Regions from separate parts of the Homo sapiens genome. Here all the other regions are reported to be linked to region 1. The links are microRNA targets in miRTarBase. Many come from high-throughput screens and were not tested one by one. Region 1 holds a microRNA gene; each other region holds the end of a gene's coding sequence.

Evidence for each region. Region 1 holds the annotated microRNA hsa-miR-5694 (CAGAUCAUGGGACUGUCUCAG, at 4,528-4,548, opposite strand). A microRNA usually pairs through its seed, bases 2 to 8, with sites in the 3' UTR of a target mRNA and lowers its output. Matches are read on the target gene's strand: a 7mer-m8 pairs with bases 2 to 8, a 7mer-A1 pairs with bases 2 to 7 and ends in A, and an 8mer does both.
Region 2: the mRNA of MORN4 is a reported target of hsa-miR-5694. Seed matches in the 3' UTR shown: 7mer-m8 at 984-990.
Region 3: miRTarBase lists FBXO48 as a target of hsa-miR-5694. Seed matches in the 3' UTR shown: 7mer-m8 at 3,216-3,222 and 7mer-A1 at 3,374-3,380.
Region 4: the mRNA of ZNF607 is a reported target of hsa-miR-5694. The part of its 3' UTR that is shown has no 7-base or 8-base seed match.

What each region holds. Positions count from the first base shown.
Region 1 is chr14:67,437,375-67,444,534 of GRCh38, forward strand. It overlaps MIR5694 (microRNA 5694), which reads right to left and starts at 4,556; the gene lies at 4,481-4,556. It also overlaps a transcript of GPHN not described here.
Region 2 is chr10:97,609,665-97,616,664 of GRCh38, reverse strand. It overlaps MORN4 (MORN repeat containing 4), which reads left to right. Exons shown (of 5, transcript NM_178832.4): 5 at 254-2,110. The coding sequence ends at 402. It overlaps HOGA1 (4-hydroxy-2-oxoglutarate aldolase 1), which reads right to left. Exons shown (of 7, transcript NM_138413.4): 7 at 3,863-5,155. The coding sequence ends at 5,006. Among named protein-coding and RNA genes, the nearest start is that of MORN4, 20 kb to the left of the region's middle. RefSeq lists an enhancer at 4,120-4,339.
Region 3 is chr2:68,458,047-68,465,206 of GRCh38, reverse strand. It overlaps FBXO48 (F-box protein 48), which reads left to right. Exons shown (of 4, transcript NM_001024680.3): 3 at 29-367; 4 at 837-5,785. The coding sequence starts at 62. The coding sequence ends at 998. Among named protein-coding and RNA genes, the nearest start is that of FBXO48, 5.7 kb to the left of the region's middle.
Region 4 is chr19:37,691,549-37,698,708 of GRCh38, reverse strand. ZNF607 (zinc finger protein 607) reads left to right here. Exons shown (of 5, transcript NM_032689.5): 5 at 1-2,338. The coding sequence ends at 669. It also overlaps the pseudogene ZNF781 and the pseudogene SELENOKP1. Among named protein-coding and RNA genes, the nearest start is that of ZNF607, 25 kb to the left of the region's middle. RefSeq lists enhancers at 1,507-2,181, 2,858-3,533.

The sequences.
Region 1 (7,160 bases):
GATAAGATGGTCAGGGAAGGCTGAGCTGAGCCTGGTTGGAGGGGTGGGCAGCGGCCAGATTAGGCAGACCAAGTTAGGAGATTTCCATTTTTGTCTGAGTCTAATGGGAAGTGATTGGAGGGCTCTAAGCAAGTGACACGGTCTGATTTCAATGTCCAAACCTCACGGCGGCTGTACGTCTGAGAATAGGCTGTGCGGGCAGCCGTGGGAGGAAGGAGAGCAGACAGGAGCCTCTCTAGCATCCAGGGGGAAGAGGATGCTGGCTGGGACTTGCTGGAGGAGGGGGGAGAGAGAGGTGGGAGGAAATGAGATGTATTTGGGAGGTTGTACCTAGAGGACTTACTGATGGGCTGGAGTGAGGAAGAGGAAACAGGCCTGAATCCCAGATTTCTAGCTTGAGCAACCCAAAGACGGGTGGTACCATTTACCACGGTGGAGGAGACTGGTGGGAGGCAGGTGGACAAAGAAGGGGGGTTGGGAGGAGGTTTTGCTGGTCTTTAGGCTTGTCCTGATTCCAAAGTCAAGAAAGTCATTATTTATGTGCCTTTCCTATCAGCCTATTAGACCTCATTTTTATATGTGGTTAAACTGTGGTTGAGCCCACTGAGTCAAGAGGGCTGAGAGATAGTACCAAGGAGCCAGTTTGGTATTTGGGGCGGTCTGCTCCTGGGACAAAGGGCTCCCAGTCTAGTGTCCGTGCTCCCCAGCTGTCACCCCCCTCCCAATCATCTCCCCAAGGTCCTTCAAGCCATGTTGGCAAAGCTCCCAGGACAGTATGCTCTGGCCCCAAGATGTTTTGTCTCATCCCTAATCTCCCCTGAGCCTCCCTCCTTTTCTCAAAATGTCTTTTCCAGTGCCCTGGCTTGGGTCAGTGTCTAGAAGGTGGGGTGATCAGGGGCTGGACCAGGAACCTGGCAAGCAGGGAGATTTGAGCCTGATGCTGGTTTCAGCTCCCAGCTGGTGTGGGCTTCTCAGTTCCCTTCTCTGAGAATTGTAGATTTCTGACTGCAAAATGGGACACAATCCTTCCTTTCTTTATGGGGTTAGAGGTAGGAGCTTTGGAGTCAGGAAGATCTCAGTTCAAATCCTAGCCAGCTATGTGACCTTGGGCAGGTCACCTCTCTAAACTACAGTTATATCACCTGTGAAACAGGAATAATAACCCCCTTCCTAGAGGACTCTGGTGAGTATAAAGCAAGATTATGGCTGGGTGCGGTGGCTCACGCCTGTAATCCCAGCACTTTGGGAGGTCGAGGTGGGTGGATCACTTGAAGTCAGGAGTTCGAGACCAGTCTGGCCAACATGGCGAAACCCCATCTCTACTAAAAATTAAAAAAGTAGCCAGGCGTGGTAGCATACACCTGTAATCTCAGCTACTCGGGAGGCTGAGGCAGGAGAATTGCTTGAACCCAGGGAGCGGAGGTTACAGTGAGCTGAGATGGTGCCACTGCACTCTAGCCTAGGCAACAGAGTGAGACTCCGTCTCAAAAAAAAAAAAAAAAAAAAAAGCTAGATTATGAAGTTTTGGATTCTCACACCCAGAGGGTCAAGATACACGGCAGCTAGTGCTACTGTTCTTGCACATATAAGGAGACCATCCATCCATGAGGGCACAGGCAACAGGCATCAGTTCCTAAAGCAAGTGGGAAATGATAGGATGTGGGACCATGAGCCTTAGTCTACATGTCACAAGCCAGCACACACACAGACTTCAGGCTGGCCTCTGCAGAGCTAGGAAAGTCCAAAGCACACTGGATATTGTTTTGTGACTTCATTATTTTGTCTCTGTGCCTCAGTGTCCCCGTCTGTGAAATGGGGATAATGCTTGTGCCTAGCTCATAGGTTGTTGTGAAGCTTCAGTGAGCTAGCTTTTTAATTGCTAAATATGTAAGGTGTTTAGAATAGTATCAGGAATGGGCTCATTTTCCTCTTGTAGTAGTTGTAGGTTTTCATCAGTATGTGTCCTCTAGAAGGAAGATTTTCTTTAGTGCAGTAGACACTTCTCTTCTCTCAGCTGCAGAAGGAGGGAAGAATGGATAAGCACTGGGCTAATGACAATTTACAGACTGACAATTTGGGGAAAAGGTGCAAGGTTGAAAGATTCATCCTAGCATATTAGAGCTTGAAAATGGACCTAAGAGTTCCATGAAATTCAATAGTTTCTTTCTTTCTTTCTTTCTTTCTTTCTTTCTTTCTTTCTTTCTTTCTTTCTTTCTTTCTTCTTTCTTTTTTGCATCAGAATTACTCACAAAAGTTTCAATAGTTTCTAAACTCCAGACCTCAGAGCAGTACCTGTCTACAGTGATGTTTTCTCCAGTTTAGCGCAATATAGAAAAACAACATACACAATGCAGTAGATTTTTCTTAAATCCAAATTTGTTCCATTTTGAGATTTTGAGGTTTTGTTCTTTATGCTTTTAGTGTTAAAATGTCCTTTCTTCTCTTCTCTTCTCTCTTTTCTTTTTTCTTTTCTTTTGTTTTGAAACAGCGTCTCACTCTGTCCACCCAGGCTGGGGTGCAGTGGCGTGATCTCGGCTTGCTGCAGCCTCAACTTCCTAGGCTCAACCTATCCTCCTACCTCAGCCTCCTGAGTAGCTGGGACCACAGGTGTGTGCCAGCCCCAGCTAATTTTCGTATTTTTGGTAGAGACAGGGTTTCACCATGTTGGCCAGGCTGGTCTTGAACTCCTGGCCTCAAGTGATCCACCTGCCTCAGCCTCCCAAAGTGCTGGGATTACAGGCGTGAGTTACCACTCCCAGCCTTAGCTGGGTAATTATGAGAAGCATCTGCATTTTCTTTATTGTGTTGGTGATGATCTGCACATACCCAAAGAACTAAAAATAAATGGCAGGAAGTCTGACTTCTTTGAAGCTGGGTAAATATTTATTTTCCCAAAGATCGAACCTCCTTGATACGGATGTAAAGTTACATGAAATGTGCCTTAGGTCTGCAGACTGTGGTCTATGGCTCGAATATACAGGTGGTCAGGATTTACACTGAAACTGTTAGCTGTAAAATTACTGTCTCCCCCACCGAAAAAAAAATTTCTGCCCCACTCACCTTGATCCACTGCTGGATCATGGCCAGGGCATAAAAGCCACTCCGGACTGGGCGCGTGGCTCACACCTGTAATCCCGGCACCCGAGGTGGCCAGATCACTTGAAGCCAGGAGTTTGAGACCAGCCTGGCCAACAGGGTGAAAACCCATCTCTACTGAAAATACAAAAATCAGCTGGGCATGGTTGTGCATGTCTGTAGTCTCAGCTACTTGGGTGGCTGAGGCACGAGAATCACTTAAACCTGGGAGCCAAAGGTTGCAGTGAGCTGAGATCGTGCCACTGCCTGGGCGACAAAGTGGTTTTTCCTGTCTCAGAGTGAAAAAAAAAAAGAGACACTCCCAGTTTGCCCTGATGCTGCCCTGATTCTATTTCACCTCCAGCCTTGACACACTGAGCAAATGGGCTCCCTTCCCTAAGGCCTACTTCCTCCATCTGGCAAATGGGCAGGAGCAAGAGAAGGCAGGGAAAGAAGGCTAAATATTGATCCTAACTCTTGTAGTGTCATTAATCCCTGACAAAGGGCCTCAGAGCTCGGCTTGTCTCTAAGCCCACTTTTCTCCAATCAGAGGGCCAATATTCCAGGAATAGTCAAGCCATGGGATAAAAACGGAGCATCAACTTTTCCTTAAATCTTTTGGGGAGAAATATGAATATACTATGGAGTAGAATGCAACATTTAGATGAACGTTTTTAAAAGAAAAATTCAACTGAAAAGAGATTTCCCAGCTGTGGCTGCTGCTGTAGATCAAGCTAACCAACTTGGGGTCCAAGTTCGTGCTTCTCTGGCTTAGAGGATGCTCTGATCCTCCAGGTCCTGTGAGGCAAATGTCATTTCCTGGGGGCTCAGCATAGGCCAGAGACATTTGGTCAGGAATGAAGATGATTTGTGACAGACAGCAGAGGTAAATTCAGTCCTCCAAGGCCCTGGCAGTCTTCCTTAATGCACCAGGCACTGGTCTCCAAGCTCAAGACCTTTTGCAGTGAGCCCAGTGAACCACTGTGTGGGCAGTCACTTACAAAGGGGAACTCCAAGAAAAGGACCCTATGTCAGCTACTCCCTCAAACTCAGGCCGACTTCTCCAATGGGCTCAGTAGACACAGGGCCCTGTGGTGGTTAATTTTATGTGTCAACTTGACCTCCCAGGTGCTTGGCTCAACATTATTTGGGGTATCCCGTGAGGGTGTTTCTGGCTGGGATTACTATTTGAATCAATAGACTGAGTGAAGCAGACTGCCCTCTCCATGGTGGGCGGGCCTCATCCAATCTGTTGGAGGTGAGGCCTGAATAGAACCGAAAAAGTGGAGTAAGGGAAAAATCAGGCTCTCTCTACCTGACTGTCCTTTGAGCGGGACGTCAGCCTTCTCCTGCCTTCGTTCTCGGACTGGAACTCACAGCACTGGCTCTCCTGAGTCTCCAGCTTGCCAAGTGCGGATCATGGGACTTCTCAGCCTTCAGATACATATGGGGCTGAGACAGTCCCATGATCTGCAGTTGGCTATAAATATCTATCTCCTTCCTATTGGTTCTGTCTCTCTGGAAATTCCAGACTAATATAGGCCCTCTACTTTTAGGGGACCACGAAAATGTTTTAATTTTAATTTCTTTTAAAATTAGAAGAAGATGACTATAATAGTAATGAATACATACAAATGAATCAAGTTTGGATTCAATTTGTCTTTATGCCAATGTAGTCACAAAATATAATTTTTAATATATTTTTATGGAAGAATGGGCCCACAGAGGCATAAGTGCCTAAGCGCCATGAAAGCCATGATGTGGCCCTGCTGACACTCTGCAGCACCCCATCCTTGAGGGTTAGGAGGTCAACCCACTGAACCAAGGGGTACACATTGCTTCCTTGCACCTGGGAGCCTACGTGCACCCGTTGGTTCAGTGGGTTGGCCAGAATGGTGTTTCTACTGCCTTCCACTGACCTTGAAGAAGAGGTTATTTTTGGAGCTATTGTCTTGAGTTTTATCTATTAATAGAAAAATTGTGTGTGTGTGTACTTCTACCTAGCGGTCCAGAAGGCAGAGTGAACGAGAAGCAGGCCTAAGATAAGGAACAGCTTCTCCTTCCAAAGAAGGTGACTACCAAGGAGCACTCGTCCCTGCCTCCACAACCAGTTTTCCTCTGTGTCCTGTCCTGGTTCTTGTCTAATTAGGTTGACCTCTCTCTCCTGTAGACCAGGACCAAGCATTCAGTGAGCATACATGACGTGTCAGATACTGTTCAGGGACAGCAAAGGTAAACAACAGGACACCTGCAGCCTTCAGAGGCAAACAGCCTTGTAAACAAGCAGTCAGAGCTGAGTACAAGTGCTGTGGGAAGACACAGCTTAATTCTGCCTGGATACCCTGTGAAGGGTGTGGAAGGACGAACATGTGACCTTAGGGAAAACAGGCAGGTGTATCCTTCCAGCCTCCCAAAGGGAAGATTTTGTTGTGTGTGAGGAATGTCAGAAATGTAATAAAGCCAACGACGTTATATTAAATGAGTTCTGGGCTGGGTGAGGTGGCTCATCCCTGTAATCCCAGCAGTTTGGGAGGCTGAGGCAGGAGGATTGCTTGAGCCCAAGGGCTCAAGACCAGTCTGGGCAACAATGGTAAAACCCTGTCTCTGCAAAAAATACAGAAATGATCCAGGCATGGTGGCACATGCCTGTAGTCCCAGCTACTTGGGAGGCTGAGGTGGGAGGATTGCTTGAGCCCAGGAGGCAGAGGATACACTGAGCTATGACTGCGCCACTGCACTCCAGCCTGGGCAACAGAGCCAGACTCTGTCTCAAAAGAAAGAAAGAAAAAAAAAATGAGTTCTGTACATTGTGACCCCCAAATTACAAATCTATTTGTTTTATGACTGCATAAGACTTTTCTTCCAGCTAAGAAGTAGAAACAAGTGTAAATTAAGAGTGCCATGTTGCAGAACACCTACCACTACCACAAAGTATGTTTGCCCCACAACCTTTTTAATCACCTGCAATTTTGACAGGAAAAGAAAGGAAAGAAGGCATTTCAAGCCGATGGCAAGGCACAAAGGGTAGGAGGGCCAGTGTTCTGGGAATGACAGGTAGTCCTGTACAGTCAGAAGGAGGGATGCATTCCAAAGTACAGTGGAGGGACAGGCATAGGATAGACATTTAGGAAAAAAAAAAAGAAAGAAAGAAAAGAGAAATAAAAATGTAGGTACCAGACACAGTGGTGCACACCTCCAGTCCCAGGTACTCAGGAGGCTGAGATGGGAGGATTTCTGGAGGCCAGGGGTTCAAGGCTATGATCATGCCTGTGAATAGCCACTGCACTCCAGCCTGGGCAACATAGTGAGATAACATCTCTAAAAAATAAAAAGAAAAAAATAGATGCAGGAATGGCATGTCCCCAGTTAAGCCTCTCGTCCTGGATGGGATGAGGAAACAGGTACAGAGAAATGTGAAAGGAAAATAAATCTTGGGGCCCCTAAATCACTAAGCTAAAGGGAAAAGTCAAGCTGGGAACTGCTCAGGGCAAATCCCCCTCCCATTCTATTCAGAGTCACCCCTCTGCTCACTGAGATAAGTGTATATCTGATTGCCTTCTTTGGAGAGGCTAATCAGAAACTCAAAACAATGCAACCATTTGTCTCTTATCCACCTATGATCTGGAAGCCCACTCCCCACTTCCCCTTCATCTTGAGTTGTCCCAGCTTTCCGGACTGAAATAATGTACATCTTACACATATGTATTGATGTCTTATGTCTCCCTAAAATGTATAAAACCAAGCTGTGCCCCGACCACCTTGAGCATATGTTGTCAGGACCTCCTGAGGCTGTGTCATGGGCATGCATCCTCAACTTTTTGCTAAGGTTTATTGGCAAAATAAACTTTCTAAATTAACTGAGACCTGCTCAGATTTTTGGAGTTCACAGAAAGGAGCATTCTTGCTTTTCAGTGGAGGAGAGTGGCCCCTTTCTGGTAAGTGTGATGAAGTATGCATTCAGAGCATGTTTTTCAGCCTCTGAGCTATAATCATCCCAGCCAATTTAGGAACCATATAGTATGATAGAGGAAAAATATATGTTGGGACTTTGTTCTTGACTTCTGACTCAGAGCTCATAAGACCCT
Region 2 (7,000 bases), not on the chromosome of region 1:
CAGCAGGATGGCTGACTTAGGTGGGCATAATATGGGTGGAAATATACCTGTTTAGTTTTAATCCTGCGGGTGTCCAGCAATCCATAGTGGCCGTCCCTGACACCTATCCATTGAACTCATCAATAGAGTACTCCTGAGTAGAGCTGGGAGTTTTTCTCTTCTTTGGCCTGGACATATCAAGGCCAAAGATATGTCTCATCTTTGAGACATTAATGCCATTGTCACTCCCATATTTTCTCTGCCCTCCTCAAAGGCCTGCTGACTTTCCCTGATGGTTCTCATGGAATCCCCCGCAATGAAGGTCTCTTTGAGAACAACAAGCTGCTGCGACGTGAGAAGTGTTCTGCCATTGTTCAGCGGGCCCAGAGCGCCTCCAAGTCAGCCAGAAATCTCACTGCCTGACAGCGCAGTGGGCACCAGCTGATAAGTATTGGGTAAAGCCAGTGCCCCTGTTGTTGATTCGAGGTGAACAAATGAATCAGAGCTGAGATGAGTTGACAATGACAGTGGAGCAGAGGCCTTGTATGTGCCCTGTCACCTGCCATTCCAGAACTGGACCACAGAAAAGTGCTGAGGATGCTGGCCAGCAGACCCTGCAGCAGTCATTGGTGGTTCTGTCTTTCCCTAACCCTTATGTGCTGGAGGACAGAGGAGCCACCTCTTCTCACTGGTTGATACTCTGTTCCTAAGACCTCAGGTTACCCAGTGTAGCCTGCTGTGACCCTTCTGCTTCATTTTCTGCCAAGTGATACAGAACCTTCGTTCTGCTGCTTTGGGGACAGGTGATCCTAGCCCCAGCTTAGGGCCAGTGCTCTGTGCCACTCTGGAGAAATAGGGAAAAGATAGGGGTGGCTCAGTACAGCAGCCCTGTGAAAGTCAAGGCCAGAGCTTTTCTTTTTTAATTTTTTTATTATTATTATTATTATTTTATTTTTTATTTTTGAGATGGAGTTTTACTCTCGCCCAGGCTAGAGTGCAGTGGCATGATCTCAGCTCACTGCAACTTCTGCCTCCCAGGTTCAAGCAATTCCCCTGCCTCAGCTTCCTGAGTAGCTGGGACTACAGGAGCGCGCCACCACACCCAGCTAATTTTTGTATTTTTTTTTAGTAGAGACGGGGTTTCACCATATTGGCCAGGCTGGTCTCAAACTCCTGACCTCGTGATCCACCCGCCTTGGTCTCCCAAAGTGCTGGGATTACAGGCGTGAGCCACCACGCTCAGCCTTTAATTTTATTATTATAAAAAATTGAGCCAGGGTCTTGCTATGTGGCTCAGGCTCATCTCAAAATCCTGGGCTCAAGTGATCCTCCTGCCTGGGCCTGCCAAAGTGCTAGGATTGCAGGTGTGAGCCACTGTGCCTGGCTGGCAGAGCTTTTCCATATGTTACTCCTCATGCTGGTTGGAATCATGGCTGCAGGCTTCCACTTGGTCTGATCAGACTGGTATTCATTCCTGCCTATGTCCCCGTGAAGGATTCGGTAAGAGTGCTATTTCCTCCTCCCTTTAGAAGACAGGCTGTCTTCTTTCATCAACTTAGAGCAGATAATCCCCATGTGTGCCTCTCTCCTTCCTTAGATGGGGAACAGGATCCCTTTTTGGGACAATCAAGAAAAAAACTCATGTAAACAGTAATCTTATTACTTGTATTTGTGACTAACTCCAGGGAAAAGGGTAGAATATTTAGGCCACTTCAGGCACTACCATGGAGTGAACTGAATTCATACGGATGGCTTGGGCTGACACAGTTTCTTCCCAGTGGACCAATAAATCAGACTCACCCGAACCCCTGGGGTTTTGGTAGAATTGGACCTACTCTAGGACTGTGGGGAACTAAAGGAGCATTTGGCTCACTGTAGCTCTTCTATCATGAGCCTTGACCGTCAGGCCGCAATCAGACCTTACTGATGGGATCTCTGCAGTTTATTACGTAGGCCTCCCGTTACCCTGGTACCCAAATACGTCCCCCACCTCTAGCTCCCTAGCCTCACATTGAATGTCTCTTCAACAGCAGATTGTGGTGGAAGTTATAGCCGTGTGCCTCTATTTATTCTCTGAATTGTACTGTAGAAAAAGGTGTTTATAAAGAATAAAGAAATCACCAGAACTGCCTATACCTAGTTTTCCTGACTTTCTGGCCCTGCGTCTTCATGAATATCAACCCATTTGCTGTTTGTAAAAGTTAATCGGGTTAGCCCTTGGAACTGACCCTGCACACTTTATCAAGTCATCTAATTTTCTCAGCCTCTACAGAGGAGGACGTATGAACTTTTTTTTCTTATTTAAATCAGACAATCTCAGGCTGTCCCAACTAGTAGGTAGCACAGCTGGGTGAGATTTGTAACCGAGCCTTTCTGATTCCAGCTCCCTTTACTGGACCTCTCTCACCCTGAGCATCAGAGTACTTAAGTCCTGAGACTAGTTATGGCCACACCTGCTGGGTTACCTCTGGCAGGTCCACTCCTGCCGGAGTTTCCCTTTTTCTGCAACAGGAGAGTGGTGGAACATTGACCCCCACGCTAACCCTTTTACATGCACGTCCTTGTTGGAGGAAGGTACTATTATTATCCCTGTATTACAGATGAGGCTCAGGGAAGTTAAGCAGTTTCTCCAAGGTCCCATAGACACTAAGGGGCAGATCCCAGAACTTAAACCCAGACCTGTTTAAGCCCAGAGGCTGAGCTCTTACCCAGTGCACTACCCTGCCTGCCTAGCCCTAACTTTTCCCCCAAGTCCTAAACTTGATTCTCCTCTGAGCCTTGCTCCTCTGGAAGTTGCCTGTGAGAGGACCCCAGGCACTAAGCCCCAAGCTGTAGTGCCATTCAGAGCCTGGTTTTGGGTTGAAGATTGAGATCTTTTATTTTCTCTCCTTTAGCCTCTGCCCTAAACAAGTATCTATTTACCTCTCTTTTTAACCTTACACTTTCTTTTAAGGAGTAATTTTTTTACAATGTATCTCCATTTTTCTGCCACTAGTCAAATATTACCACTGAAAAAGGTTAAATATTTTGGAGAAAGCATCCTTTTTTGTTGTTGTTGTTGAGATGGAGTTTTGCTCTTGTGGCACAGGCTGGAGTGCCATGACACGATCTCGGCCCATTGCAACCTCCACCTCCCACGTTCAAGCGATTCTTGTGCCTCAGCCTCCTGAGTAGCTGGGATTACAGGCGTGTGCCACCACGCCCGGCTAATTTTTGTATTTTTAGTAGACATGGGGTTTGCCGTGTTGATCAGGCTGGTCTCAAACTCTTGACCTCATGTGATCCTCCTGCCTCCGCCTCCCAAAGTGCTGCCTGGCCCTAAACACTTAGCACTTTAATCAAAAAGGATGCTGAAGGGGTGCAGTGGCTCACGCCTATAATCCCAGCACTTTGGGAGGCCGAGGCAGGAAGATCACCTGAGGTCAGGAGTTCGAGACCAGCCTGACCAACATGGCGAAACGCTGTCTCTACTAAAAATACAAAAATTAGCCGGGCATGGTGGTGAACACCTGTAATTCCAGCTACTCGGGAGGGTGAGGCAGGGGAGTCACTTGAATCTGGGAGGCAGAGGTTGTAGTGAGCCGAGATCGTGCCACTGCACACCAGCCTGAATGACAGAGCAAGACTCTGTCTCAAAAAAATAAAATAAAAGTGCTAAGTGTTTGTTTCTAAATAGCTCACTTGCTCTCTTTTGCCTCTTACCCCTTCCCCAGGTCTCCAGTAAGTGAATGCCTGTTGGCTCAGTATTGCTGGGGACACTCTTCGAGCTGGGAGAAGGCAGACCATCAGAGCTCTTTTGCCTTTAGAAAGGTTCTTGACATCTGGCCAGGAAACCTAAGATCTGCATAGCAATAGAGTGTCCATCTTTATATAGCCACACTAATTTTTTCTGTTAAATTTTATTATAGTAACAAAGTGACTATTTTTAATAATAAAAGCAGAGTGCCTGTAGGCAAGTGGATGGCCCTATCTCAGGCCAAGTCTCCTTAGTGTTTCAGACCTAGGCTGACCAGAATAGTCTTCTAGAATGTAACATTTATCCACCAGGTGTCATTATTTACCAATCTGACAAGCCACTGGGCTGTCTCCGTGCATTCAATGGTTGGAATCAAGGCTACAGACCAGAATAGGAGATGAATGAAAATAGATTTAGAAAAGGGCGTTGTGGCTGGAATGCAGCTTGCAGTGTGGAGGGCAGGGATGGGAGGGTAAAGAGGGCTCTTTGAAAGACCAGTGTCACTTTCCTGATCAAGTTTCTTAAGCTGATACTTCCCTGGAAGGAGTCAGAACTTGGGTTTGTAGGAGTAGCCCTGGCCTCCAGCTGCATTGTGCTAGACTCAGGTTTGAAGCCCCAAATCTAAGTAGTCCCCCCTTTGATAAATTCCCGGCCGGGTGCAGTGGCTCACAGCTGTAATCCCAGCACTTTGGGAGGCCGAGGCAGTTGGATCACCTGAGGTCAGGAGTTCAAGACCAGCCTGGCCAACACGGTGAAACCCCATCTCTGCTAAAAATACAAAAATTAGCTGGGCGTGGTGGCAGGCGCCTGTAATCCCAGCTACTCGGGAGGCTGAGGCAGGAGAATCGCTTGAACCCAGGAGGCGAGATCATGCCATTGCACTCCAGCCTGGGTGACAGAGTGAAACTCTGTCTCAAAAAAAAAAAAAAAGAAAAGAAAATTCCCTTACTGTGCCTACTTGCCCCTCTGCCCTTCCTTTCTGACTTCATGTGCCTCAGGGCGTAGGAAAGCATCCACAGTAGAAAGATAAATTGAGAAATTGCTCCTTCCCAGTCTTCAGACCAGAGACACAGTTTAGGATCCAAAAGGGAGAGGTCAGGGGCCGTTAGAATAGGAGATATGCATGGGCGTGCCTGTGAAAGGCTGCCTGGAGGACCACAGCAGGCAAAGGAGCCTCTATCGGCTCCCCGCTGCCTGCCACCCTCATCCCCCTGTGCTCTCCGCTTCAGGCTGCAAGTGCAAGGCAGGAGGCTGAGATGGGCTCAGGCCAGCCATGGACCCTGCCTGCCCTCAGAGCCAGCCGTTGCTGGTGAAATCCATGCGCAGTGCCTCCTCCTCAGCGGGGCTCAGCTCCTGCAAGGGGGCGCGGCAGGGGCCTCCATAGTAGCCAAACCAGTCCATGATTTTCTTCAGCCCTGGGATCCCAAAGCGCCGGGTCACCTGCAAAGCAGGGCCTGTTAGAAGAGACTGAGAAATTTGCTGAACACCCATATCTGGAACTCGGAGATCTGTCACTTTCAGAACATTGAAGTCCTACCCTCTTCCCCCAGGAAAGTAACTGCCAACTCTATGGCACCCAGGGTACATTGGGAATCCAGATTTAGAGACCAGAGAGCAGGTCTGTAATAGCAAAATACAAAAACTTCAGATTGGGGAAGAAGAGTGCCTCCTTTGGTTTTAGGAGAAAAATCCACTCCAACAGAGAGGAGAGTGGTATTTGGTCCTCAAGCTGGGGTGGGAGAAGACAGCAAGGCTGCAGGTCTAGGCACTAGAGCATCAGCAGTCTGCAGCCCAGCTCCCTGAAACCTGACGCAGGTCACACCAGACCTGGGAAGTCAGGAAGGGGAAGGATCTGTGAGAGTCTCAGGCACAGCCCAGACCTCTACTCCCCTTGCATCTGGCTGCCCTCACCTCCCCATAGCTCCTCCTGACCCTAACACTAAATGGTCTCCCAGGAAAAGCAAAGCATCATTTCCCAAGGAAGTTTTGTTGTATAAACTGTATGTCATTTACTTATTATCTCTGAGTAAGTTCTCCTGTCTAAAAAAGGAAGGGGCTGGACAACATGATCTCTAAAGGCTTTTCCCTGATAATGGGGGACCTAAAGCTATTGTTATAATTTATTCATTTATTTTTATTTATTTATTTTTTTGAGACAGTCTTGCTCTGTCACCCAGGCTGGAGTGCAGTGTCCTGATCTCAGCTCATTGCAATCTCTGCCTCCTGGGTTCAAGTGATTCTCCTGCCTCAGCCTCCTGAGTAGCTGAGATTACAGGCACCTGCCACCACACCAAGCTCGTTTTATTTTATTTTATTTTTGTATTTTTAGTAGAGACAGGGCTTCGCCATGTTGGCCAGGCTGGTCTCAAACTCCTGACCTCAAGTGATCTGCCCGCCTCGGCCTCCCAAAGTGCTAGGATTACAGGCATGAGCCACTGCACCCGTAATAATTTATTTATTTTTATTTTATGTTTATGTTTTTGAGACAGGGTCTCACTGTGCCACTCAGGCTAGAGTGCAGTGGTATGATCATGGCTCACTGTAGCCTAGACCTCCTGGGCTCAATCGATTCTCCCACCTCAGCCTCCACAGCACCTTGGACTTCAGGTGCATGACAGCATGCCTGGCTAATTTTTGCATTTTTTGTAGAGACGAGGTCTTGCTATGTTGCTCAGGCTAGTCACAAACTCCTGAGCTCAAGTGATCTGCCCACCTTGGCCTCCCAAAGTCCTGGGATTACAGGCATGAGCCACGGCGCCTGGCCTATTATAATTTAAAATCGTGTATGGAATATTACAGAATAAATGAAGCATCAAATTTCCTTGCTTTTGGTATAGCAACTGGTTATTTCATGCTGATCAGAAATATTAGATGAATCTTTCACTACCTAAAAACTACAAAAGTAGTCCTTAAGAAAGTTTTATTTGGAGAGAAGCTAAAACCTTAGGAGGATAAAAATAAAAGGTTGTTTGGGATAAAAAGGCCAGGAACCACTGATGAAAGATTGACTAATAACTTTACCACTAGAGTCCCGGAGGCTTTATCAAGCATGGATTTTTTTTCTCGGAATGGGTGGTAAGCCACCCTCCTGCAGGCCTCGCCACCCCCATGATGTTCTAATAGCCTGGCCTTTTTACCCAAAGCCTGAGTAGGTGGGAAAGACCCAGGATACAGGATGGAAATAAGAGGTGCCCAGAGAAAAGCTCACTCCTGCCATGGGTTTCCAAAGATATCTGATGTGGCCCCTCTTCAAACCCTAAGAAGGGGTTGGTGGCAAAGACTGTA
Region 3 (7,160 bases), not on the chromosome of region 1:
CTGAGCATGTTTAAATTTTGCCTTTTAGGTTACATATGAGGATAACTTAAAACATTAAGCTATGCATAAAAACTCCAAGAGAAACAATAATTTAAGAGTTTCTCACACAGAAGCGAACTCTGTGGATGCTGAGAAGGAAAAAAATGAGAGTCAAAACAACTTTTTTGAACTGCTGCCTGCAGAAATCACTTTTAAAATTTTCAGTCAGCTGGACATTCGGAGTCTGTGCAGGGCTTCATTGACATGCAGGAGCTGGAATGACACAATAAGAAACAGTGACTCTTTATGGAAACCTCACTGCATGACTGTAAGAGCTGTGTGCCGAAGAGAAATAGATGATGATCTAGAAAGTGGTTATTCCTGGAGGGTAAGTTTAATCTTTGCGATCTGCAGTGTTGTTGACAGCGTTATGATAGCAGGTTTGCGCCAATTCTAACTTCTGCTTGGAGGAGTCAGAATTACATATGCAGAATAACACAGACAGTGTGTTGACTCTTGGAAATGAGTTAAAGTTATTAGTCTTTTCCTGCTAACCACACTGTTTCCACACTATCTTTCATTTATCCTTTTGCATTTTTAAAATTCTAAATTCGGGAATTTTCCTGCGTTAACCAGAAGGGAATTAGCTCCTTCTTTCCACTTCACCTTATGCCACTCAGTATAAATACACATATACATACACACACGTACACAGACACATACATTTATTAATGTACGTATATATAAATGTAAATACTCTTTTTTTCAGCCCTGTCAATCTGCTTCTCTTGCTTTAAACACATTCACTAACCAACCACCTACTACAGTCTTTTTTAACGGTGATTTACCTCTTTCAGGTGATACTGCTGAGGAATTACCAGAAGAGTAAAGTGAAACACGAATGGCTAAGTGGCAGATACAGCAACATTTGTTCTCCCATTAGCCTACCAGAAAAAATCATGTACCCAATGGATGCAGATACATGGGGGGAAATTCTAGAAGCAGAACTGGAAAGATAAGGGGAAAAAAAATCACAAATCTCAGGTCTTTGAAAGTTTAAAACTTAAATGACTCTTAGGTTGCAAAAGCGATATCTTTATTCGTTCATTTTGTTGTTCACCTTTTTAAAAGAAAATGAAATGGAACTATTATAAAAGTAAAGCTTTATTTTTGTTTTGCACTTTAGTAAAATTTTTCTGGTTTTATTGTAATGTGGAAAAATCATGAAATGTTATTTTTATAAGAAATAATATACTGATAGAGTGATTTCCAAATACAATGTTTCATGTATTTGTGTTAATATATTTGCAATACTAAATGTAAGAGTGATTTGTATGTTCAGCTTAATGATAATTCAAAATTTCAGGAAGCCACTTTAAACTGACTTAAAGATTCATTAAGTGGTGGTTATAACTAGGCTCATGGGAAGACTAGCTAAGTGAAATTAATAGCAATACATTTAAATTAATACATTGACATTTTAATGACTTTAACATTTCTATTTCAGTGGAATCAGATTGAAATGTCAAATAGTGAAACTATTTTTAATGTGTTAAGCCTGTGGTTTAGTTTTAAGTTAATGTCATCTCAGGGCTAAAGTTTGTCCAATTGAGATTCCCATTAATTTTATATAAACCTGGAACGGCTCTCAGGAGCTGAAAGTAAGTGGAAAGTTTCCAGAACACTTTACCATCAGAATGCCACACTAGCCTGGTAAAACTCTCTTTCTGACAGCCTTATAGCACCATCTAGTGTGCTATTCTTAGATAGCAAGACAAAGGACTTTCAGCTCCTTTTTGTTTTCTCCATATTAAAAAGAAAACTGTTATTCTAAAGAATCCTTAACACTTGTCTTTGTTAAAGTTTATAACTTTTTAGGAACCTTTATTTTAACTTTTAAAAACTTTTGTTTCTCTTTTTTCATAAAAACAGATTATATGCTACTCACTATAACAAATTGTTTATTCTGAATCTGTGGTTACCACCATAGTAAAAAAGTGTCTACAAACTGCTTTAGTTAGTGTGGGGTTTTCTTCTTAAAAACTGTTCTCTATAGCATTAAATATAAGAATCCAGGAAACCAATATTTAACAAATAGGCAAATATTAGAAAGATGCCCCACTATATGCAAATTCTGTATGTTGAATCAAGCAGTAGATAATTAATTGTCTCCTACTATCTTCTTAGAGTTGGAAGAGTCCTTGAAAATCAGGCAGTCAAGTGTCCAGGACTATTCAGTAATTTTCTCAATAGGAACACTGTCAGTCAGCCAGCCCAAGCTGAAATCCTGTACTTCTACTAATAGCATCTCTGTTATGTCACAGAACAGTCCAGTTGTAGTCTAGGCTTGCACTGAAGACCACCTCTCTGTAACGTTTGCCTTCTAGCCCCACTTCCACCCTCTAGAACCAGGCTGATTCAGTCCTTCCTGTCTATGATTGCCAGATATTTGAAGACTGATAGCCTGTCTCTTCCTATGTCTTCTCTCCAATTCCACTGATGATCATAGAGTATAATTTCTAGACCCAACAACATTCTCTTCTGCCCATTTACTCTTAACAAAAGAAAGGGGCTGTGCGCCATGGCTCACGCCTGTAATCCCAGCACTTTGGGAGACCAAGGTGGGTGGATCACCTCAGGTCAGAAGTTCAAGACCAGCCTGGTCAACATGGTGAAACCCTGTCTCTACTAAATATACAAAAATTAGCCGGGCGTGGTGGCAGGTGCCTGTAATCCCAGCTACTTGGGAGGCTGAGGCAGGAGAATCGCTTAAACCTGGCAGGCAGAGGTTGCAGTGAGCAGAGATCACGCCACTGCGCTCCAGCCTGGGCAACAAGAGTGAAACTTCGTCTCAAAAAAAAAGGAAGAAAGAAAGGTATCCTACTAATTTTATTTCATAAAAGATAAGAAAGCACTTGGAAATTTTCAAAGTATGGGAAAAATTAAAGCTATAAGCATTTTGCTGAATAGCATCTGTGTACAATAGTAAATGTACACATATATTTTTAGCTGTTTTTTTGTAATGGATGTTTATTATTTTTGTCCAGCCCCCTTACAATCTATCATCATCATCTGTTAATAGAAGTTATCCTAATTAGGGAGACTCACCCTTCTCACTTCCAACCAAGTGTGTGGTTTTTTTTGGCCGGGGTGGGGGGCAGTTTTTTGTTTTTGTTTTTTTGTTTTGTTTTTTGAGATGAAGTCTCACTCTGTCACCCAGGCTGGAGTGCAGTGGCATGATCTTGGCCCACTGCAACCTCCACCTCCCAGGTTCAAGCAACTCTCTGTGTCAGCCTCCCGAGCAGCCAGGATTATAGGCGCCCGCCACCATGCCCAGCTAATTTTTGTATTTTTAGTAGAAACGGGGTTTCACCATCTTGGCCTCCTGACCTTGTGATCTACCTGCCTCAGCCTCCTAAAGTGCTGGGATTATAGGCATGAGCCACCGCACCCAGCTGGGTTTTTTGTTTTCTTGTTTTTTTTTTTTTACATTATCCTGTTTTTCCCAGCCTCCGTGTTTAGTCCAAGGATGGAAACATGACCCAATCCCCCCTTTTCATAAGTTGGAAGAAAGAAGCCCTTTCCTCTTTGCTGATGAAACTGTTCCCTGCCACACAAAGAAAACGGATCTTGGCCGGGCGCGGTGGCTCACGCCTGTAATCCCAGCACTTTGGGAGGCCGAGGCGGGTGGATCATGAGGTCAGGAGATCGAGACCATCCTGGCTAACAAGGTGAAACCCCGTCTCTACTAAAAATACAAAAAATTAGCCGGGCGCGGTGGCGGGCGCCTGTAGTCCCAGCTACTCGGGAGGCTGAGGCAGGAGAATGGCGTGAACCCGGGAGGCGGAGCTTGCAGTGAGCCGAGATTGCGCCACTGCAGTCCGCAGTCCGGCCTGGGCGACAGAGCGAGACTCCGTCTCAAAAAAAAAAAAAAAAAAAAGAAAACGAAAACGGATCTTAAGTAAGAGAATGTGGAGCCACCAGGGGAAAGAACAATTGCAGGGAAAGAGGCCTGATTATATTCCAGACCCTGGTCCCAGCCATTCCTTATCTGCTTACCTAAATTAATTCAAATTGAGTTTCACCATCATACTGGGACCCCCACCTGATGTGGTTTCGTTGCCCATTTTTCAAATATGTATTATTTGTGGCTTACATTAACATCTTAGATTTCACTCTGACTTCCTCACCAGTCAGTCTTAATCTGCTATAATATGGCCATCACTCCATATGGTTGAAACTGTTGGTATCCAAATTACAAGTGACTTAATGTCTAAATCCACTGGATGCATTCTACTTGTTAATATATTTGACACACATAAACACTCACACTGACACACATAAGTACTTCTTAAAACTCTCTCCTCCATGGGTTGGAACTATAGTCTCTTGGACTTTTCTTTCCCTACTCTAACCCGTCTTCTCAGTTTCCTCCAAAGACTCGCTTTCCTTCACCTACTCATTACATGTTAGTGTTCCCCCAAAGTTCCACCTGTTGTCATCTCGTCTCTATACTCTAACATCCTTGGTGATCCCATCTACAACTCCTATGTCAGCTACCATTGTTGGTGCTAATGCCGTCTATGTCCGTGTCCCAACATCAGATCTCCATGAGATGTTCCAGAAATACATATGCTATTATCTTTTGGATTTTTATCCAAAGATAGTATAAGTATATATATATATATATAAAATATTTGATATATCCAAAGATAGTTTATATATAAGCACCTGAATCAAAACTTACCATCTCATAAAAGTAGTTCTTCCTCCAGTTCCTATCTCAGTGAATGGCATGTCCTGTTAGAAAATCACCATATTTTACTTTTCTCCATCATTCTCCAAGTCCAGCCGAGTCAATTCTTACTTGATTTTATCATCCAAATATCTAAGTAATTCACCTCTTCCCCATCTTTATCTCTGCCTCATTACTTAATTCTTGTCCTTATTTGACATTGGGATTTCTAAAATAACCTCTTACTGGTGTTCCTGCCTCCAGTTCCTTCCTTTTACTGTTAGCAGTGTAGTCTTTGTTAAACCCCAAATTTAGCACGTCACCCTAACTTAAACTCCTGACTGCATACAGGTAGAAATCAAAATTCCCCACTAAAGCCCATAGGGCCTTTAATGATGTGGTCTGGCCTACCTCTCCAGCCTGTTCTCTAACCACTGTCCCACCCTATATCTTTCTGTTCAGTCTTACAAAACTATTTCATAAAAATTTTCTCACTTCTCTGCCTTTGCACAGGCTGTTTGATATACCTGGAGTAATCCCCACCATTGATTCTTTTCTTGGCAAAAATCTATTGTAAAACTTATCATCTTGGCCTGGAAACAATCCATAACTTCTACTGTTCTGGATTAAGTGACTTTTTAGATGTTCTTGTAGTTCTTTGTATAGACCTCTCTCAAAACTGTCATATGACATTAAATTGTCTATTTTATTTGTGTGTTTGCCCCTTTACACTGTGAACTTCTTAATGGCAGGGACCATTTTTTATTTATTTTTGTGTCTTCAAAACCTGGCACACACTAGATGCTCTATAAAGATTTGTTAAATTATTTCTATAGTTATTTATTTTAATCCTACACAGAATGTATAAAAATAATTTACTATATTGTTAGTGAAGAAGATTGTATCAAAATGCAGTATACAATCCTTAAGGTATGTGGGATGCTTGATAGTAATACAAATGTATGAATAATTGTTCCAGTCTTCTCCAAACCTGTAAGAGGGAAATAGGAAAATAAAAATGTTTTGTTTTATTGTTTTGAACTCTTGAAAATAAACTTAACCTCAAAAATATCACTTATTATTTTGAATTATTGAATTACTTCCATCAGTTTTAAGTATTAGCTTTGCAAATTATGTGAATGAACATTAACTTCGATTTTTTTAGTGCTATTGCACTAAAATAACTAACAAATTATGTGCTATGATCAAGGTCTACACTGAAAGGAAACCTTTGGAACTTAGTGATAAATTTATGGTATGGGCTTAGAATGAACCATGCATTTATCAGGCCAAGCCATTAGCATCTGAAAACATGAGTGGGTGGAGCAGCATGGAAGGAAGGAATGTTCTTACTCATAGATAAAATAACATGTTAAGTGTGCACCCTGTGTACAAGAAGCAAGATTCTTGGGGAAGAGTATTAAGGAATTTTGAGTGTTTTAAATCAGTTTAAGATCTAGTATTTAGAAAAATAAATTTAGAAACCTTTTTTTTTTAGCTTCTTCTGGTTTATAACCCAATCTTAGACCAGAACATAATCATCAGTAAAATCTCTGTGAATATAAACTTTCGACCTGAGGCTACTTGCATATGTACAAACCTAATTTTAAAACTATGGCTGGGTGCGATGGCTCACACCTGTAATCCTAACACTTTGGGAGGCTGAGGCCGACAGATTGCTTTAGCTCAGGAGTTCGAGACCAGCCTGGGCAACATAGTGAGACCTTGTCTGTACTAAAAATTTTAAAAATCAGCCAGGTGTGGTGGCGCATACCTGTAGTCCAAGCTACTCAGGAGGCTAAGGTATGAGAATTGCTCGAGCTTGGGAGACTGAGGCTGCAGTGAGTTGTGATCGCACCACTGCACTCCAGCCTGGGTGACAGAGTGAGGCCCTGTGTCAAAAGAAAAGAAAAATGTAATATACCCCTGACCACTTTAACTTCATCTTTGCTTTGACTTTATATCATGTCTTCTCTCCAAGACTTCAAATGCCCTAGTAATATTAATGAAAGTAAGATGAGTAGCAACTTAAGGAAATGGGTTGGGAAGAATACATAAGATGGAAGATCACACATTTTTATTTAGAGTTTAAGACCAAAAACATCAAATTGATGAAATCAGATCAACAATGGACGAAGCTGATTAATTATAACAGCTGACATTAATTGAATGCCTTCTTGTACCAAGCATTGTTCTTACACGATGTATGCTTACTCTATATCCATTTTATGGATGAGGAAACTGAAAGAGAATGATGTTTTCCATCTATTTAATCACCACTTCCCAGCACTTACAAGAATGTGTCATACATAGTAGGTACTCAATAAATGTTTATCAAATGACTTCAGAAACTTAGAATGAATAACTTAGATGAAAGAGCCAAGAATGTCCCTCCAAGTTTTTCACTGGAAAAATTTCAAACCCACAGAAAAGTAAAAATATATGA
Region 4 (7,160 bases), not on the chromosome of region 1:
AAACCCTATGTATGTCAAGAGTGTGGGAAGGGTTTTAGTTATAGCCATAAACTCACTATACATCGCAGAGTTCATACTGGTGAGAAACCTTATGAATGTAAGGAATGTGGGAAGGCCTTTAGTGTATCTGGACAACTTACTCAGCATCTGAGTATTCACAGTGGTAAGAAACCCTTTGAATGCAACAAATGCGGGAAGTCTTTTAGGTTCATTTCTGTACTTAAAGCCCATCAGAATATTCATAGCGCTGAGAAACCCTACGAATGTAAGGAATGTGGCAAGGCCTTTCGTCATGCCACAAGCCTCATATATCATGACCGAACTCATGCTGGTGAAAAGTCCTATGAATGTAAAGAATGTGGGGAAACTTTTAGTCATGCTTCACATCTTATTATTCATGAGAGAATTCATACCAGTGATAAACCCTATGAATGTAAAAGATGTGGGAAGGCATTTCACTGTGCCTCATATCTTGTTAGACATGAAAGCGTTCATGCTGATGGAAATCCCTATATGTGTGAAGAGTGTGGGAAAGCTTTTAATAGTAGCCATGAACTTAGTATACATCATAGAGTTCATACTGGTGAGAAACCCTTTAAATGTAACAAATGCAGAAGGTCCTTTAGGCTTAGATCCATCCTTGAAGTACATCAGAGAATTCATATTTGATAGAGAAATTGTGGCATATACAGGTAGTAAAGAAAGCACATTGTGTCAATGGATTTATCCCACTGAACAATTTGAATGAAGACAATGTGGAATGGCTTTGAGATACAGTTCAGTTTTTATTAGGCATCAATTTGTATTGGTGTGAACTTTTCAAAATGTAAATCATATATGCAGTTTCTTTGGTATGACCTGTGTTAACTCAGATTCAGAGAATTTATAATGTATTTTTTTAATAACATAAGAAAACTTTTCTGATATTCCTCTAGTTTTGGATTGCCAAAATATTCACAGTAGAGGAAAACTGAGAAAACGTAGGAAACCATTCTTTATACTTGCATGTAAACATCTTCCAGCAACAATCATTTATTGTTAAACCTGGAAAAAGCCATTACACAGGAAACCTCTGTTGATATAAGCGATGATGGGAAAGGCTATTTAGCCACTCTGCATATTTAATGCTCATGATCAACATCTGCTTCCTATAGCTGGGATGATATGGGGGAAGATATTTATCCCTTCTGGGGATCATATATAAATGATGATAGTAGTACCTACAGTATAGTGCTGTTAGAATTACATGAGTTAGATGTGGAGGTCAGAGTGGAAGCAGGTGTGAGAGGGTCCCGCAGAAGAAAACATGGCTGCCAAAGTGTTTGAGTCCATCGGCAAGTTTGGCCTGGCCTTAGCTGTTGCAGGAGGCATGGTGAACTCTGCCTTATGTAATGTGGATGCTGGGCACAGAGCTGCCATCTTTGACCAATTCCGTGGAGTACAGAACATTGTGGTAGGGGAAGGGACTCACTTTCTCATCCCATGTGTACAAAAACCAATTATCTTTGACTGCTGTTCTCAACCACGTAGTGCGCCAGTCATCACTGGTAGCAAAGATTTACAGAATGTCAACATCACACTGTGCATCCTCTTCCGGCCCATCACTAGCCAGCTTCCTCGCATCTTCACCAGCATTGGAGAGGACTACGATGAGTGTGTGCTGCCGTTCATTACCACGGAGATCCTCAAGTCACTGGTGGCTCGCTTTGATGCTGGAGAACTAATCACCCAGAGGGAGCTGGTCTCCAGCCAGGTGAGCAACAACCTTATGGAGTGAGCAGCCACCTTTGGGCTCATTCTGGACGACGTGTCTTTGACACATCTGACCTTCTTGAAGGAGTTAACAGACAGGTGGCCCCCCAGGAAGCAGAGAGCGCCAGATTTGTGGTGGAAAAGGCGGCCATCATCTCTGCTGAGGGTGACTCCAAGGCAGCTGAGCTGATCGCCAACTCACTGGCCACTGCAGGGGACGGCCAGAGCGAGCTGTGCAAGCTGGAAGCTGCAGAAGACATTGCATACCAGCTCTCATGCTCTCGGAACATCACCTGCCTGCCGGCAGGGCAGTCCGTGCTCCTCCAGCTGCCCTAGTGAGGCCCCAGCCTACCTGCACCTCCGTGAGGCAACTGGGCCACAGCCCCGATGATTCGTAACACCACCTTTCGCCCTCACCCCAGAAATCACTGAAATTTCATGATTGGCTTAAAGTGAAGGAAGTAAAGGTAAAATCACTTCAGATCTCTAAAAAACAAAGAATTACATGAGTTAGTACATGAAAAAATTATGGGAAACTACATGAAATATACTGTTACGTTCAATAAACATTAGCTTCTGTATATAATAATATCATTACTTGTGTTATTTTTAGTGCATTTTGACGAAATGAAAACCATTAACCATTCAAGTTTAATGAATTCAAAAAAGTTTTATGCTTTTTAAATTTGAATTCATTCTGGGTAAACAGATAATAAGTAAAAACCATAAGAGGGCTTTCATTCCGATCTGTTTAGGTGAATCAGACACTTAATCCTGGAATGAAATTCAGATGTAAGCTGGGCAGTGTGGCTCACGCCTGTAATCCCAACACTTTGGGAGGCCAAAGTGGGTGGATCACTGGAGGTCAGGAGTTCAAGACCAGACTGGCCAACATGGTGAAACCCCGTCTCTACTAAAAATGCAAAAATTAACTGGGCGTGGTGGCAGGCGCCTGTAATCCCAGCTACTCGGGAGGCTGAGGCAGGAGAATTGTTTGAACCCGGGAGGTGGCAATTGCGGTGCGCGGAGATCACACCACTGCACTCCAGCCTGGGTGACAGAGCAAGACTCCATCTCAAAAAAAAAAAAACCTGCCTGAGAAAGCTCAATGCTGTTCTGAAAACATACTGTTCCAGCCAAAACCTGTAAATAGTGATAGGTCCTTAAGCCCCCTCTTAAAGCAGTTACTTTAGAAAGCTTGCAATTATAAACCATTTCTCTGCCCCTTTGAGATGCAAATCTACCACCAAGAGCTGTCTCCTCAGCTGAGTTTGAAATGCAAACATTCAGAGAGCCAGCTCTTGCTCCAGCCTCTCAGTTGCTGTGGGAGTGTAAGGGCCTAACTTTGGTGGCTGTCTTGCTCCAACTTTCACAACTACCTCAGTCGTAAAGATACAAGAAGTTTGTTTCTACTCTGGATAAATACCAATTAGTTAAAAAAAAAAAAAAAAAAAAACCTGATGCCTTAGTCATATGGACCAAACTCCCCCGTAACACCTTTCAGTGTCTTCTTTAGTACACCCCAACATTTTCAACAACTCCTGATTTTTGTTTCCCAAAGTGGAGCTCAGTTCACACTGGATTCTGTTCCCTAATGCAGTAGTTATTACTGAATAAAATCTGTCTTTACTGCCTTTTACTATTGTCTCACTTTGTTTCTTTTTCTTTTCTTTTTTTTTTTTTGTTTTTGTTTTTTTGAGATGCAGTCTGGCTCTGTGGCCCAGGCTGGAGTACAGTGGCCATGATCTCGGCTCACTGCAACCTCTGCCTCCTGGGTTCAAGTGATGCTCCTGCCTCAGCCTCCCAAGTAGCTGGGATTACAGGCATGTGCCACCACACCCCGCTAATTTTTATATTTTTAGTAGAGATGGGCTTTCACTATGTTGGCCAGGCTTGAACTCATAACCTCAGGCAATCCACCCACCTCGGCCTCCCAAAGTGCTGTGATTACAGGCGTACGCCACCACGCTTGGACTCTTTTCTTTTCTTTGAGACGGAGTCTCGCTCTTGTCACCCAGGGTGGAGTGCAATGGTGCAATCTCGGCTCATTGCAACCTCCGCCTCCCAGGTTCAAGCCATTCTCCTGCCTTAGCCTCCTGAGTAGCTGGGATTACAGGTGCACACCACCACGCCTGGCTAATTTTTGTATTTTTAGTAGACACGGGGTTTCACCATGTTGGCTAGTCTGGTCTTGAACTGCTGACCTCAGGCGATCTGCCCACCTTGGCCTCCCAAAGTGCTGGGATTACAGGTGTTAGCCACTGCATCTGGCCTTTTTGTTTCTTAAGACAGGGTCTAGGTCTGTGGCCTAGGCTGCAGTGTAGTCATGCCATCCATAGCTCTTGGGCTCAAGTGATCCTCTGGCCTCAGCCTCCAGAGTAGCTGGGATTATGGGTGTAGACCACCAGGCCCAGCTAATTAAAAAAAAAAAAATTTGTAGGCATGGGGTCTCACTATTTTGCCCAGGCTGCTCTTAAACTTTTGGCCTCAAGCAATCCAGCTGCCTTAACCTCCCAAAGCACTGGATTACAGGCATGAGCCACTGCGCCCAGCCCCACTGTATTTCTCTTTGACAAAACCTAAACATTCTGTTTATTTGAACACCACTTATATTTATGTTAATGTTCTGAGTAAATGTAAATGAATACTGACAAAATAATAGTATAACATCAGAGAGATTTTTGTTTGTTTGTTGAGACGGAGTCTCGCTCTGTCACCAGGCTGGAACGCAGTGGCACAATCTCAGCTCACCACAACCTCTGACTCCCTGGTTCAAGCAATTCTCCTGCCTCAGCCTCCTGTGTAGCTGGTATTCTACTGGTATTAGCTGGGTGTGGAGGCACGCGCCACCACACCCAGCTAATTTTTGTATTTTAGTTTCACCATGTTGGCCAGGATTGTCTTGATCTCCTGACCTTGTGATCGGCCCACCTCGGCCTCCCAAAGTACTGAGATTACAGACGTGAGCCACCACGCCCAGCCTAGAGAGGTTTTTTTAAACAAAACGAATATGTAACTGATATCTTGTATTTTAAATTTAAGAGGGCATATGAAATTGAATGCATTCTGTGAGAGGAGAGTCAGAGTATTGATAAATTTGGACTTATTAAAATTCCTGGAGTAATGACTTAAAGAACCTACAAACTATTAAAGAGAAAATTGGAATAGTAATACATCAATCCAACATAAAGAAAGGAGAGAAAAAGGAAACATGCAACAAAAAGAAAACAAATTAAAATGCCAGGAGCTAATGCCTGTAATCCCAGCACTTTGGGAGGCAGAGGCGGGAGGATCGTTTGAACCCAGGAGTTCAAGGCCAGCCTGGGCAACATAGGGAGACCCTGTTTTTAAAAAGTAATAAATAAGGCTCCGAAGCAGGGAATGGGGGCAAGATGGTTTACATCTCAAACGCACAAGTGTTGGACAACTGGAGTCAGTCTCCATGGAGATTATCTTTGATAACAGATTTCTTCTGGGGAATAGCTGAGTTTGTGGTTTTGTTTTTCAAAACTCTGCTTCGGCAAGATTTGAAAAAAAGAAGAAGCTATGGAAACTCATCTGATTTCAGATACGATGACGATGGAAGAGGGCCACCGGGAAACCCTCCTGGAAGAATGGGTCCAATCAATCATCTGGGTGGCCCCAGTCCTCCTCCAATGGCTGGTGGATGAGGAAGGTGTCTGCTCTAAGAAGCAACTGGACATGCATATTCATAGCAGAAGGAAACCATCAAGAAGTGGAGTGCTGACCATGCTGCAGCAGTAGATGAAAGTGTGTGTCTAAACAAGGACTGCTCTGTGTCCTCACAGATGACTGAGGTCATGCTGGGAGTTCCCTCTGCAGGGAACTGGCCTGATTGACATGCAGTTCCACAAATGCACGTTTGTCTCATTATCTTTAGGGTATTAAAGTATTAATATAGTTTTTGTTGTTGTTGTTGTTGTTGTGGTTTTGAGACAGAGTCTCACTCTGTCGCCCCGGCGAGTGCAGTGGTGCGATCTCGGCTCACCACAACCTCCGCCTCCCGGGTTCAAGCGATTCTCCTGCCTCAGCCTCCCGAGTAGCTGGGACTACAGGCGCACGCCGCCATGCCCAGCTAATTTTTTGTATTTTAGTAAAGACGGGGTTTCACCATGTTGCCCAGGCTGGTCTCGAACTCCTGAGCTCGGGCAATCCGCCTGCCTCGGCCTCCCAAAGTGCTAGGATTACAGGCGTGAGCCATTGCCCCCGGCCTCCTCATCTTTAAATTCACAAAAAGATTGAATATGAAGAAAATAAAAGCCTGTGTATTTAGCACTAAAAAAAAAAAAGAAAATATAATAAAATGGCAGCTTTAAATCTATCAGTGGCTATATTAAATGTAAATAAATTAAATACTCCAGTTAAAAGAGATAGACGTTCGGGGTGTATTTAAAAGCCACAGACACACATGGTCTTCCGACTGCCCTATTCACATGCTCAGCCCCTGACAGCACTGGCTCTGGGACTAAGCCCCTCGGGCAGCCCTGAGCCTCCCAGGGCTGAGCACCTCGCTTTGAGCAGCTCCGCTACCGCGTCCTCCAGTCGGGAGGCGGCTGCGTTCCTGCGCGAAGCACGTCGGCCGCGAAGGCCTCTGGGAAATGTATTCCGGGCTACCAGCCCACAAACGCGGCGGAACCGGTTGCGGGGAGGTTGCTTGAATTCTCTCAGCTGCGCCCCCTGACCTAGTAGTCGCTGGCACAAGCTGCGCCCGGAGACGTGGGAGCGTTCTCTTGTTTTCCGAGTGCGCGGACTCATCGGGTCACAGTTTATGCTTTTATGACGCGGTGAGTCCAGCCACTGATTCCTAACGGTTTAGAGTGGGGAGGTTACGCTTGGGCGTCCTGGACGCTGGCCCAAGTGGTGGCTGTAGAAGACGCACGGATCCCGGGATGGGGCTGGAGGTTTGCAAGAGTCCATCCGAGGGGATTCTGGCTGCGAGTGTGACAGAGTATATGAAAGCCGCATGGAGGATCTGATTGTAGTGTGAGCGAGAGTGAGTGCCCGCGAGGGATCGTCACCTGAATGAAAGTCTCGGATTCACCGCCTCTTATCTTCCCTTCTTCGACTGTAAAATGGTGAAAATAAGGGTGCTTCTTCCAGGACGTCAGTTTACTCGAAAATTTGGAAAAGGCTAAATAATTGATCTGATAAATACTATAAAACAGGATTTCTGTGTAAAAGATAAATTTATTATTGTATAGAATACCAAATCAGTGTGACTTTTAAATACAAGAAGAAATATTTTAAAGGAACTTATTTTGTGGGACTCCTGCTTTTGTGTCAGACCCTCAGAGTAGGCATTTATTCTGTTGTTTAGGGAACACAACAGATTTGAGAAGCCTCGGATTAAGGAATAATTTATGAAGCTCCGTTGACTACCGTGGAGA